Linked DNA regions of Homo sapiens. The protein of the gene in region 1 purifies or fractionates together with the protein of each later gene. This does not show direct contact. Each region holds a gene or a part of one and is shown on either strand. Other genes may lie near its edges. The genes, in order: SPIN4, DIS3L2 and WDR76.

Region 1 (4,413 bases):
ATATGTGTGAATATATATACACCACGATGTCATTCTAAGTGTTTGGAAATAACTGTTCATACATGTAGTTTACCTTCTTCCTTGGAATTACTATCTTGTAATATGGCATTAAAGAATTATCCCATCTCTGAAGTCCTTTGCCTGGGAAACATGGTGAACTGGAGGATCCTTACACATTCTGTGTGACCAGCTATTAAACAGAATGAGGACTAGGTCTCTCTGTCACTGACTTGGAAGGTAATGAAATGTTCAGGCAACCAGTATTGACACCTTGCAGCTTTTGCCCCGGTTTTGTTTCCAGGTGAATTAATTGCCTTTTTTACTCATGATTATATGACGCTTTCTCTTTTCACCAGTGAAGAGTAGAGGAATGAAAATGAGAACCCTAGACTCTTCTGGATTTTAATGTCATCTTGTAAGTGGGATATAGTGTTAAAAGCTTTACAGACATTCTCATTTAATCCTCATAGCAGCTCTGTGACTTAAGGTAAGTGAAATTATGGACACTTTCTTTTCTTGCAGGTTTTCGATATAAGCATGCAGCACTTTTATAATCAGAAAAACAGCAAATATATACACAAAAAATCCCTTCTTTCTCTCTCTACAAAATTAAGACCACAATATTGTTTCAATATTTTGCTTTTTCATTGTACTCATCTCATGTGCAGCTCTCCATGTCATTAAATCTTCTTTTAAAAAATGGTTTAGACAATAAATCCATTTATGAAGGTAAAATGTTTTTATTTATACTTATGTTATAGATCATGTAGGATAAATAGTGGACTATCAAAAGGAATATTACAAATATTTAATATTACTATTAAAAATCATGTTTTCAGAGTATTTAACAATCTTGGAAAATGTTCATGATATACATGAAAAACACAAGTTATAAAAGTATGAAATATGCTCCCAATTTTATAAAATATAAGTACAGGTTTATTAATAGGAGAGAAAACAGTATTGTTAACATTTTGGTGCAGTCTGGATGGTAAAATTAATGGTAGTTTCGTCTTTTATTTCACTGAATTTTAGAAGATCTCCACAATGTCAGTACATGACCTTTACATTCTGACAAAAAAAAAAAAAATAAAAATAATTACTAGAAATGATCAGGTAGAAAATATAAAACAGATTTTGGATTAAGATGGTGGTCTGTAAATTGTACACAGGGTTTTTATTCTCATCTTAAATATCTTAAACTGAAAGAAAATAATTTGTATGCACAAACTCTTTCTGGGTGTGCGTGTGTTTTACATTTTTTTTTTTTTTAAGTGAGGAATTCCTGGAAGACAGAAAGCAGATGGAGCCACTGTGTAGGAGGCTGGCGGGCAGCAGACCGCCAGAAAGGAGGAGGAGGGGAGTCGGCCTGTCTGGCTGGCGTTTGAGGGAAACGGTCGAGGGGCGGAGGAGGAAATGAAAGAGAGGGCGCGTGTGTCAATACAAACTGAACACGGGCACGCGCGCTGACCAGCCCGGCTGCCGCCCGCAGAGCGGAAGGCGGGATGGCTGGGGGCGGGGCCAAGGCTCAGGCGGGCTCAGAGGGGGCGGGTTCCCTGCGCCGCAAAGACCCGGTCGCCAGAGTGAAGCCAAGCCAGCTAGCGCTGCGAAGCCCAGGCCGCGCGGACTCCCCAGAGACTTGCCGCCGCCTGCGCCTTTGCCGCTGCAGCCATCCCTCTTACTCCTTGCCTTTCGTCCCCGTCGTCTCCTCTGCCGCCGTGCCGCAGCCGCACCAGCATCGACAACAGCTAAGTGGCCGATTCGGGGACTTGGGGTCGGGGTTGGGGCGGACGCAAGGCACGAACAGCACTCGCGAGCCCGCCATCTCTACGTCAGCCGCCACTGCTGCAGTAACCCTTCTAGGGCGAGAGAGGAAAGCACTGTGGAGAGGCACACGCTGTCCCAGTGCTCACGGTTAGAGTTCGAGCGTTTCTGCCAAAACCTTGGTGAGAGCCTTGCACTTGGAGAAGGGAGCACAGACCAGGTCTTTGAGATCGCAAAAAATATATATATCATATTGCATAGTGTTGACTTTTTGTCAGTTTAATCGACCAGGGCAGCAGCTTTCCCCAAGCCCTCTTAATCCCTGAGCTATGTCTCCTCCAACCGTGCCTCCGATGGGGGTAGATGGCGTGTCCGCATACCTGATGAAGAAAAGGCACACCCACAGGAAGCAACGGCGCAAGCCCACTTTCCTCACTCGTAGGAACATCGTGGGCTGCCGCATTCAACACGGCTGGAAGGAAGGCAACGAGCCAGTGGAGCAGTGGAAGGGTACTGTGCTCGAGCAGGTTTCCGTGAAGCCCACTCTTTACATCATTAAATATGATGGCAAAGATAGTGTGTATGGACTAGAACTGCACCGCGATAAGAGAGTTTTAGCGCTAGAGATCCTTCCTGAGAGAGTGCCAACTCCTCGTATCGATTCACGACTGGCAGATTCCCTGATTGGCAAGGCAGTGGAGCATGTGTTTGAAGGTGAACATGGTACCAAGGATGAATGGAAGGGTATGGTCCTGGCGCGAGCTCCTGTGATGGATACTTGGTTTTACATCACCTACGAGAAAGATCCTGTTCTCTATATGTACACGCTGCTTGATGACTACAAAGATGGTGACTTACGCATTATTCCAGATTCCAACTACTATTTCCCTACAGCAGAACAGGAGCCTGGAGAGGTGGTCGACAGTCTCGTGGGCAAGCAGGTGGAGCATGCCAAAGATGACGGGTCCAAGAGAACTGGCATTTTTATACATCAAGTGGTGGCGAAGCCATCTGTTTACTTCATTAAGTTTGATGATGATATTCACATTTATGTCTATGGTTTGGTGAAAACTCCTTAAATTCTTTGTGCTCTTTAGAGAAGTTGTGGATCTGTTAGATGTGAATTATTTTGTGTTCTCGTAGTTGTGAACGCAGAGAAGAGTTTAGGTGTCAGAAATTCAGGAAAGTGGATAAATTTTATTGTGCCAACAAATCTTACCTTGACTAGTTTCACAATTTTGCCTCAAGTGTACTTTGCTACTTTTGATATTGCCTTGTTCTGTAACTTAACAGTTAAATTGGGTGCTAATAGAAAATTAAAAAGTGTTTGCAACCATTGGAACAATGCAAAAATAGATTAAGAAAAATTAATGGTGTAAACCCACACCCCGTCCTTACCCCTTCCTTTCCTTACCTTGTTTCTTCCCAGAAAACAAGTGTTGAGGATGCGAAGTACATCCTTCCACCTATTTTCCCCATCTTCATGCAGAAAGTATGTTCTAGTAGTTTCTGTAAAAATGGCAAGCCACATGCTTTTCTCACTTGACATGTAGATGATATCTCTTCTTATCAGTAGCTTCAGTCTTTCTTGCTCTCTCTGGCTCTCTCTGGCCCTCACTCTTACTCTCTTGCACTCTTGCTCTCCCCCTCCCTCCCTTACTCTAACAGCTGAATACACAGTACTTGTTGATGTACCAAAAAGGCATTCAACCATTTCGTTATTGATCGTCTTTTATTTCCTTTTTTTATTTTTTTTCAAAATAACACTGCTGTAATACATACTGGTGCTTTTATTTATATAGGTTGGATTCCCAGAAATACTATGTAGGCATATGTTTCAGAAATATTACAAGATTACTATCCAAAATGAAAGCGCCCGTTCCAGCGTCCTCTCCAGCACTCTTTAATGCTTGAAAATATGAAAGGCTAAAAATTGCATTGTATTGCTTGTTAGTTTAATTGCCTTTTGTCTGAGTTCAAAGAGGTTTGTTGTTGTTGCTGTCCTTGTTTCTGTTTGGATTTTTCTCTGATTTGCCTGTTCTTACCCTTTGCTCATGTATCTATTGATGTTTTTCATTATAAATTTGTAGAAATTCTTACTACATAGTGCATATTAATCATTTGTAGCTCTAATGTGTTATGACGTTTTCATCTTGACTTTATTGATGATATATTTTCCTTTAAAATTTTTAAACTTTTTAGGTAGACCCTTATCTCTTTTATAGATTTTGGTTTCCTTTTTTTATCACATGGATGCCCCCACCCAAAGTCATACAAATATTCACCTACATTTTCTTCTAATAACTTTATTATTTTTAATGTTTAAATGTTTGATCCATCTGAAATTTATTTTTGTATATGGTGTAAGATGGGGATCCAGCTATAACATTTTGTTCACATTGGATACCTGATTGTGACATTTATTTAAAATGTTACCCATTTTCAAATTTCTGAGCCAATATCATGATTTAATTATAGTGGCTTCATCGTAAGTTTTAGAATCCGATAAAGCAAGTCCCACTTCATTAGTTTTTTTTTTCTTTATATAATATGTCCTAGACATTCATTTTTTCATGTGAAAAAATGAAATGCAGAATTTTAATAAAATTCTAATTATGATGGCTGACATCACAATTAAAATCCTGCATT
Region 2 (3,648 bases), on another chromosome or scaffold:
CCTGGAGGGCTTCAATGCTTGGAGGCGGCCCTCAGCCCTCGGCCCTGGCCCACCCTTGCCTGGCTGGAGGGAGCTTCAGGGAGGCCCTGCCAGGCCACCTTCAGCTGAGGCAGCAGGTGAGAGTGACCAAGGGCCAGGGGTGGGGGCTGGGAAGGCCCGTGGCTCTGTGTGCTATGGGGGGCAAGTGGTGGGGGGTCCAGGGCTGACTGCACTGAGGTGGGGACAGAGAACTGTGGCGGCGGAGCGCTGCGCCCCCTGCTGGTGCCATCTGTCAGTGCAGGCAGGGCTGGGCCCACAGCAGGGTGAGCTAGGCTTGAACTTCAGGATACAGAGCCCCCAGGGTCCGCAGGGGGACTCTGTCGTTCCTCTTCTGCCCAGCTCCCGGTTATGAACACCACGTTTACTGCACACAACGGGCTGGACACTGTACTCCCAGGGCACTCTGGATGTTAGGAAATTCAAAGCCAGGCACAGAGGCAGGTGGTGACCTGCAGACCCCAGGGCCAGCTGGAGCCAAGCCCCTAAGGCAGCATTAGGACAGGCCCATGTCCCCTTGGAGAGAGAACTGTGAGTCAACAGTCACTCAGGGCAGGAGCCGAGCCAGGGACAGCTCTCTTCCTTGTCTTCAGGGGACACAGTTTCCAAAGCGGCCACGGACCATTCGCTGGCCTTTCATTCCTTCACGTTCCTATAAACACAGTCCCCAAAGCCTGCACACCCTGCCGAGCTGTACTGGCCATGGAGGGGCCTGCTCTCTGGTTCCTGGGTCCTTGGGGAAGGGGGCCAGGCCTGACCCTGGGCCTGGAGCCACCATCCCAGGTGGGAGAGCTGGGCGTCTCAGCAAGGCCCATCAGGTGGGCTTTGTGCTAGGGCTGGGGGAGCGAGGGGTGGAGTGTGACCCATCACAGCCTGTGCCCCTCCAGTGCGGGATGGCTTGGGCTGCCCTGCCCGCCCCCGGGCTCTCCCAGGGCACTCACGTTGCAGTAGATGCGCTTCTGCACGCCGTAGCGCAGCACCAGCACGTCGAAGGCTTGCTTCAGGATGCCCATCACCATGGCTTCTGACTCCAGGGGGCCACTCTCCTGCAGGGACAGTGCTGCAGCCATGGCACCTCCTGGCACTGCCCTGGGCTCCTCGAGGCCTCCTGGTGAGCAGGTGCCCAGGAGGGTCGGGAGCCAGAGGGAGGTGAGGGGCACCAGGCTGGAGGGCTCACCTTGACCAGAACAGCAAAGAAGAGACTGGTACTGAGCTCCTGCACGCGCTTGGACGCCATGCGGCGGTCGTTACAGTGGTCCGCCTGTTTCTGCAGGGTATCGGGCGCCATGTCTAGTCGCTCCCTATAGCCTGGGAAGAGGGGGTGAGGCATGAGAGTGGGAGCCTGGGGGGCTGGGAAGAGCTATGGCTGGGGGATGGGCTGCATGGCGCTGCACCCCCGCCGACAGATTAGGACCCCAAGCACCCAGCTCCCAGGGCAGCAGAAAGCGGCCCTTCGAGGTCAGCGCCCTCCTCCCGGCTGTGTCCAGGGCTGGCTGTGGGCTCCATGCAGCTTCTGCAGCACCGGCCCGTAGGGAGAGTTTCCAGGCCAGGCTCCCCTGCACTTGGGTCGCCCGACCCTTGGACCTCCGCTGTCACGGCAGAATGGTCTTGGGCCACTGAGCACCCACTGTGGGGGTGGGCAGCCCTGAGCTGGCCCAGGTCTGCCCTGACCCCGACTGCACCCCTCACCTAACGCGGCAGCCAGGAGGCGGTGCACCAGGACGTCGGCAAAGCGGCGGATGGGCGAGGTGAAGTGTGTGTACAGGGGCACATTGAGCGCGTAGTGCCGGAACTGCGCTGGGTCCTGCAGCAGCCCCGAGCAGAAGTACAGTGCCATCTGCGGGACGGGATGGGTCAGAGCCTGACAAGCCCAGAGCTGCCCAGCCAGGCCTGGAAGGCTGGCACCACCCACAGCCTCACCGTCGGCAGCGATGTGTGGACAGACCTAATGGGCTGCTGGTTGCTGAGTGACGCCAGGGAGGACTGGGGCCAGGGCCCTTGCTGCACAAGGGGCCCCAGGGGGAGGCCAGGAGGCTGGGCAGAGCCCAGGGGTACCCATGTCCTTTCCAGGAGACAAATCTGGCCTGCCTGGGCCTCCCAGATGCCCTCAAGGTGGCAGCACTGAGAATGGCCTGGACAAGCCCACCCTGCTGAGGACCAGGGAGCCAGGAACCCCCAGGATGCTGTCAGGGTAGGGGGCACGAGCTGAGCCTCCGAAGTCCAGTCCCTGCTGAGTCACTGCTGAGCACCACCAGGAGGGAAGAGTCTCTGGCCTACCCTTCCCCAGCATGGGGCCGGGGCTGCTACTCTCGCCCAGGAAGAAGGAAGAAGAAAGAAAGGTAGCGGCGGGGGGTGGGGGAGGAGGAGGAGGAGGTGGCGATGGCAGAGGTGGAGGCAGAGGAGGAGGAGGAGGCGACAGCGGAGGAGGAGGAGGAGGAGGAGGAGGAGGCGACAGCGGAGGAGGAGGAGGAGGAGGAGGAGGAGGAGGAGGAGGAGGAGGCGACAGCGGAGGAGGAGAAGGAGGAGGTGGTGGAAGGAGGAGGTGGTGGTGGTCGAGGAGGACAATGAGGAGGAGGAAGAGGAGGAGGCCGCCTGCGGTTTTGTTGGACCAGGGGCTGCAGACGCTGTCTGCTGGAGACACAAGCAGAAGCCAAGGAGCCTGTGGGTCTTTGTTCAAGGAGGCAACGTCCATCCTCCCATCTGGCCAGAGTGGGAGGAGGGAGAGAAAGCCCAGGATGCGATCCCCTGCCCTGTGCAATACGGGCCTCAGGCTCTTGGAGCTTCCTCTCCAGCCTAGGCCCACCTTTGGTCGGGGCCGTCCTCATCCCCTCTGGCACTGATCCCGCCCAGCTGAAGCCACGCTTCACCCGGGCACCTCTGTGCTCGCCAATACTCCACCCCACAGCAGTCAAGGGAGGCAGTTTCCGGCCTGCCAGCCTCGGCCCTTCTCGTCTCTGACACCTGACCCTCCCGGGGGCTGAGACACAGAGGGCTGAGTTCCAAAGGCCCTTGTGCTGGGCAGGAGGCAGGACTGGGGCAGGGGGAGATACCGAGAGTCTCTAGGGACCAGCGCATAGCCCGTCCCAGCTGGGGCCACAGCCCCTGAAGCTGTTTGTCCTGCAGTCCCCGAGCTTTCAGGGCTGGGTGTCAGGGCCAGTGCTACTGCCTGGGAGCGAGTGAACGGGTTCCTCGCAGAGGTCCAAGGTCACGCCTGTATGTCTCTCTGGCTCCCTTGCTCCCTGGCTGCTGTACACACTCACCCTCCTGTGCCCTTGGCCAGACAGACAGCCGGCTCCCGTTACTCTGTGCACACGGGCCCTGGAATCCAGGGCGCAGCTGATGGTGACCTGCTCCGCTCCCTAACTCCACTTCCCTTCCAGCCCCTGCTGGGCCCTGGGTTAAGTCGGGGGCAAGTCTCTGGGGGAGGTGGGCACAGCCTCCACTCCCAGACATGTCTGGGCTTTGTTCTCAGTGGTGGCCCAGTTCCCCAGATGACCTGGGTGAGGTTGATGAAGGGCCCTGGCCCCTCTTGGCTGGTGGAGGTGGCTCAGGGTCGGGTGGGATGGGTGGGGACCATGGCTTTCCCACAGGCCCAGCCATCCCTGGGACAGC
Region 3 (3,648 bases), on another chromosome or scaffold:
ATATAAAGTATTAAAAATAGGTGTTCTTGAATAAAAAATATTTAGAAAATGTTTGCTAAATAAAACTCTACTCACTAAAACTACACATTATCACGTATTTATTAACATTAATAACTATATTCTATTGATTACTAAGCCCCTAATATGTGAGAAACTTTATAGATATGATTTCATTTATCTTTACAGTAGCTCTTTGAGGTTTTTTTTTTAAACTGACATAAAATTGTACATATTTACTGAGGGTTCTATTATTGCTGACTTTTTTTTAATGGAGAAACAATCAGAAAGGTTAATTAACTCACCCACAATCCTAAGCAGGTAAGTCCTGCAGAAATACAGAATCCAATACAGTCTTTACGACTTCGAAATCTTACTCATTAAAGCGTACAAATGGGCCGGGCACAGTGGCTCACACCTGTAATCCCAGCACTTTGGGAGGCCGAGGCAGGCAGACCACTTCAGGTCAGGAGTTCAAGACCAGCCTGGCCAGCATGGTGAAACCCCGTCTCTACCAAAAATAAAAAAAATCAGCCAGGTATGGTGGCATGTGCCTGTAATCCCAGCTATTCGGGAGGCTGAGGCAGGAGAATCGCTTGAACACGGGAGGAGGGGGTTGCAGTGAGGCAAGATCATGCCACTGCACTCCAGTCTGGGCGACAGAGTGAGACTCCATCTCAAAAAAACAAAACAAAACCATACAACATTCAAGTATTAATGAAATATAAAATTAAACATAATTTAATGAACTTTTAGTCTAGTTTCAACACTTCAAATTTTTCAGTATTTTATTACATTAAAATATTATATTTGCACATTTCCTTACAGTTTCATCTGCTACTAATGTCGGCGGTGTTGGAGCTGCTGGTAATGAAACTCCCGAAGGATCAACTTTTAGTAATCGCATTGACCTTCTACATCCAATCCCATTTTCTCTCTTAGGCTTCTTTCTAAAGGAGTGGGGAAAAACTCATGTTATACTCACAAAACAATAAAATGTATTTACTAATACTAAAGAGATAACTTCTAGGAATATATACCACAGATATATTTATAAACTGCATAGATATATATATACATGGCCACAATTATCTTAATAAGAAGTATGGAAAAAACAAACCTAAATGTTCATCAAAAAGAGGTGAGGTCTGTTAAATTATGGTATACATATCTAATAGAATAATACGCAGCCATAAAAAGAATGATATAGATCTTTATGCACTGCTGAAAGGAACCCTTGGTTATAAAAAGCAAAAACAAAGTCCAGTACATGTATACAAAAAGGTTACATATACACATACATTTGTACATGCTGAGGTTACCTTTGGAGGAATACACATAAAACTACTACTTCTAGGGAAAAGGCCTGGAAAACTAAGGTCTAAAATAGGAAGGAAACTTAAAACGTTTCACTGCATTCCCTTCCATACACTGTAGTTTACTTTTTAAATAATATACATTCTCTATTTTTTTATGCACTATTTTTTCATTTTTAAAAAAGTAATTCATTTTAAAATGTTGGGGAAAGAGAAGCCTCTGAAATTATTTCCAAAAATTCACATAAAAAATTATCAGTTATAGTCCACATTACTTCGAGAATTAGTAAAACCTACTGATTGAAAGTATACTATATACTAAAAACTGTAGTCAACATTCCATCTCATATTTAATCCTCAAAAAAGACACCTGAGTATATGGAATAATATGGGCTGTCATACAATCCTAGAAATCTACTCCTAGAGAAACTCCCATACATAAGCACTAAGAGACTTAAGAATGTTTGGAGCAGCACTTTTCATAATAAAAATAACAACTCAATTGTTCATCAACAGTAGAATAAAATGTAGTACATTCATACAGTGGAATATCATATAGCAGAAAAAAAGAACGAAATAAAGCTGTGCGCATCAACATGGGTAAATTTAAAAGCATAAATATGTAAAGATGAGCAAAATAAGAAAATCTCAGAATATAAAAAAGGCATATTGTATGTGAACACCAAAAAAAGACAAAGCTAAACAATATAGTGTTTAAGGATACACTCACTGGTAGTAAAACTATAAATCAATAGCCAGGCACAGTGGCTCACACCTGTAATCCCAGCACTTTGGGAGGCTGAGGTGGGTGGATCACTTGAGGTCCAGAGTTCCAGACCAGCCTTGCCAACATGGCGAAACCCCGTATCTACTAAAAATACAAAATTTAGCAGAGCATGGTCATGAGCACCTGTAATCCCAGCTACTCAGAAGGCTGAGGCATGAGAATTGCTTGAACCTGGGAGGCAGAGGCTGCAGTGAGCCAAGATTACACCACTGTACTCCAGCCTGGGCAACAGAGCAAGACTCTGTCTCAAAAAAATAAATAAATAAAAATGAAACTATAGGCTGGGCACAGTGGCTCACGCCTGTAATCCCAGCACTTTGGGAGGCCGAGGCAGGCGGATCACGAGGTCAGGAGATTGAGACCATCCTGGCTAACACGGTGAAACCCCGTCTACTAAAAATCCAAAAAATTAGCCGGGCGTGGTGGCGGGCGCCTATAGTCCCAGTTACTCGGGAGGCTGAGGCAGGAGAATGGCATGAACCTGGGAGGTGGAGGTTGCAGTGAGCCGAGATCGCGCCACTGCACTCCAGACTGGGCAACAGAGCGAGACTCCATCTCAAAAAAAAAAAAAAAAGCAATAAATAAATGCAAGGAAATATTACCACAAAATTCAGCATAGTGGTTGTATCGGGAGGGAGGGGTATATATGGGCCTTCAGGGGTATTCGTAATTTCTATTAACCTGGATGGCAGGTACATGGATGGGACCTGTATAATTTTTCAACTACACAAATACATTATATGTACCTTTTTATATGTATATTTAATAATTTTCAAAAAATTTAAATCCTTCTAGATTAGCATAATGCCAGCTTTACAGAAAGAAAAATTATATAAAGTATCCAAGGTTACTGTCATAGCTGTAAGTGACTGAATCAAAACTTGAACCCAAATTTGCTAAATCTCAAAGGCTACACTTCTGCGCTACATTACACAACTTCCATACTATCAACTTGCTACTGCCTATACAACTATTAAGGGCTAGAATTTTGTGATTTAGGAAGAAATCACCAATCTTGGCTAATAAAAAAATGCAAATGTAAAGCTACTAATCAGCGGGCAACAGGACCAGTGCTACTGTTTTTCCAGTGTTAATGATGTTCCTCTTATAGTAACTTTTCACACTTGAAAATACCTGGCCATGATTAAAGGTCCAGCTTTTCTCAAGCTAATTGTCCTGTAACAGAATCAAACCAAGTAAATGAAGCTACATTTCATTAGGAACTGGCACTAAACAAATGAGCTAATGATACCAAGATTTTAGTTTCTTCATTTATATGTAAGCACTGCTAAAATGCAATGGAGATAATTCAAAATTTAAACACCCTTGAGTTCAAATCCTAAAGCTACCACTTATAAGCTGTTTTGACTTTCAGCAAATAGTTGTTTTTTTTTGTTTTTTTTTTTTTTGTGAGATGGAGTCTCACTCTTATTGCCCAGGCTGGAGTGCAATGGTGCAATCTTGGCTCACCATGACCTCTGCCTCCCGGGTTCAAGCGATTCTCCTGCTTTAGCCTCTTGAGTAGCTGGGATTCAGACATGTGCCACC

The links.
Region 2: the proteins of SPIN4 (region 1) and DIS3L2 purify together in Homo sapiens (co-immunoprecipitation; one large-scale study listed by IntAct). This does not show direct contact.
Region 3: the proteins of SPIN4 (region 1) and WDR76 purify together in Homo sapiens (co-immunoprecipitation; one large-scale study listed by IntAct). This does not show direct contact.

What each region holds. Positions count from the first base shown.
Region 1 is NC_000023.11:63,348,500-63,352,912, reverse strand, and holds the start of SPIN4 (spindlin-4), read left to right. Parts: upstream 1-1,580; 5' UTR 1,581-2,093; coding exon 2,094-2,843; 3' UTR 2,844-4,413.
Region 2 is NC_000002.12:232,332,065-232,335,712, reverse strand, and holds part of DIS3L2 (DIS3-like exonuclease 2), read right to left. Parts: intron 1,874-3,648; coding exon 1,726-1,873; intron 1,345-1,725; coding exon 1,214-1,344; intron 1,083-1,213; coding exon 978-1,082; intron 1-977.
Region 3 is NC_000015.10:43,836,904-43,840,551, reverse strand, and holds part of WDR76 (WD repeat-containing protein 76), read right to left. Parts: intron 948-3,648; coding exon 824-947; intron 1-823. UniProt on the Homo sapiens protein: Specifically binds 5-hydroxymethylcytosine (5hmC), suggesting that it acts as a specific reader of 5hmC.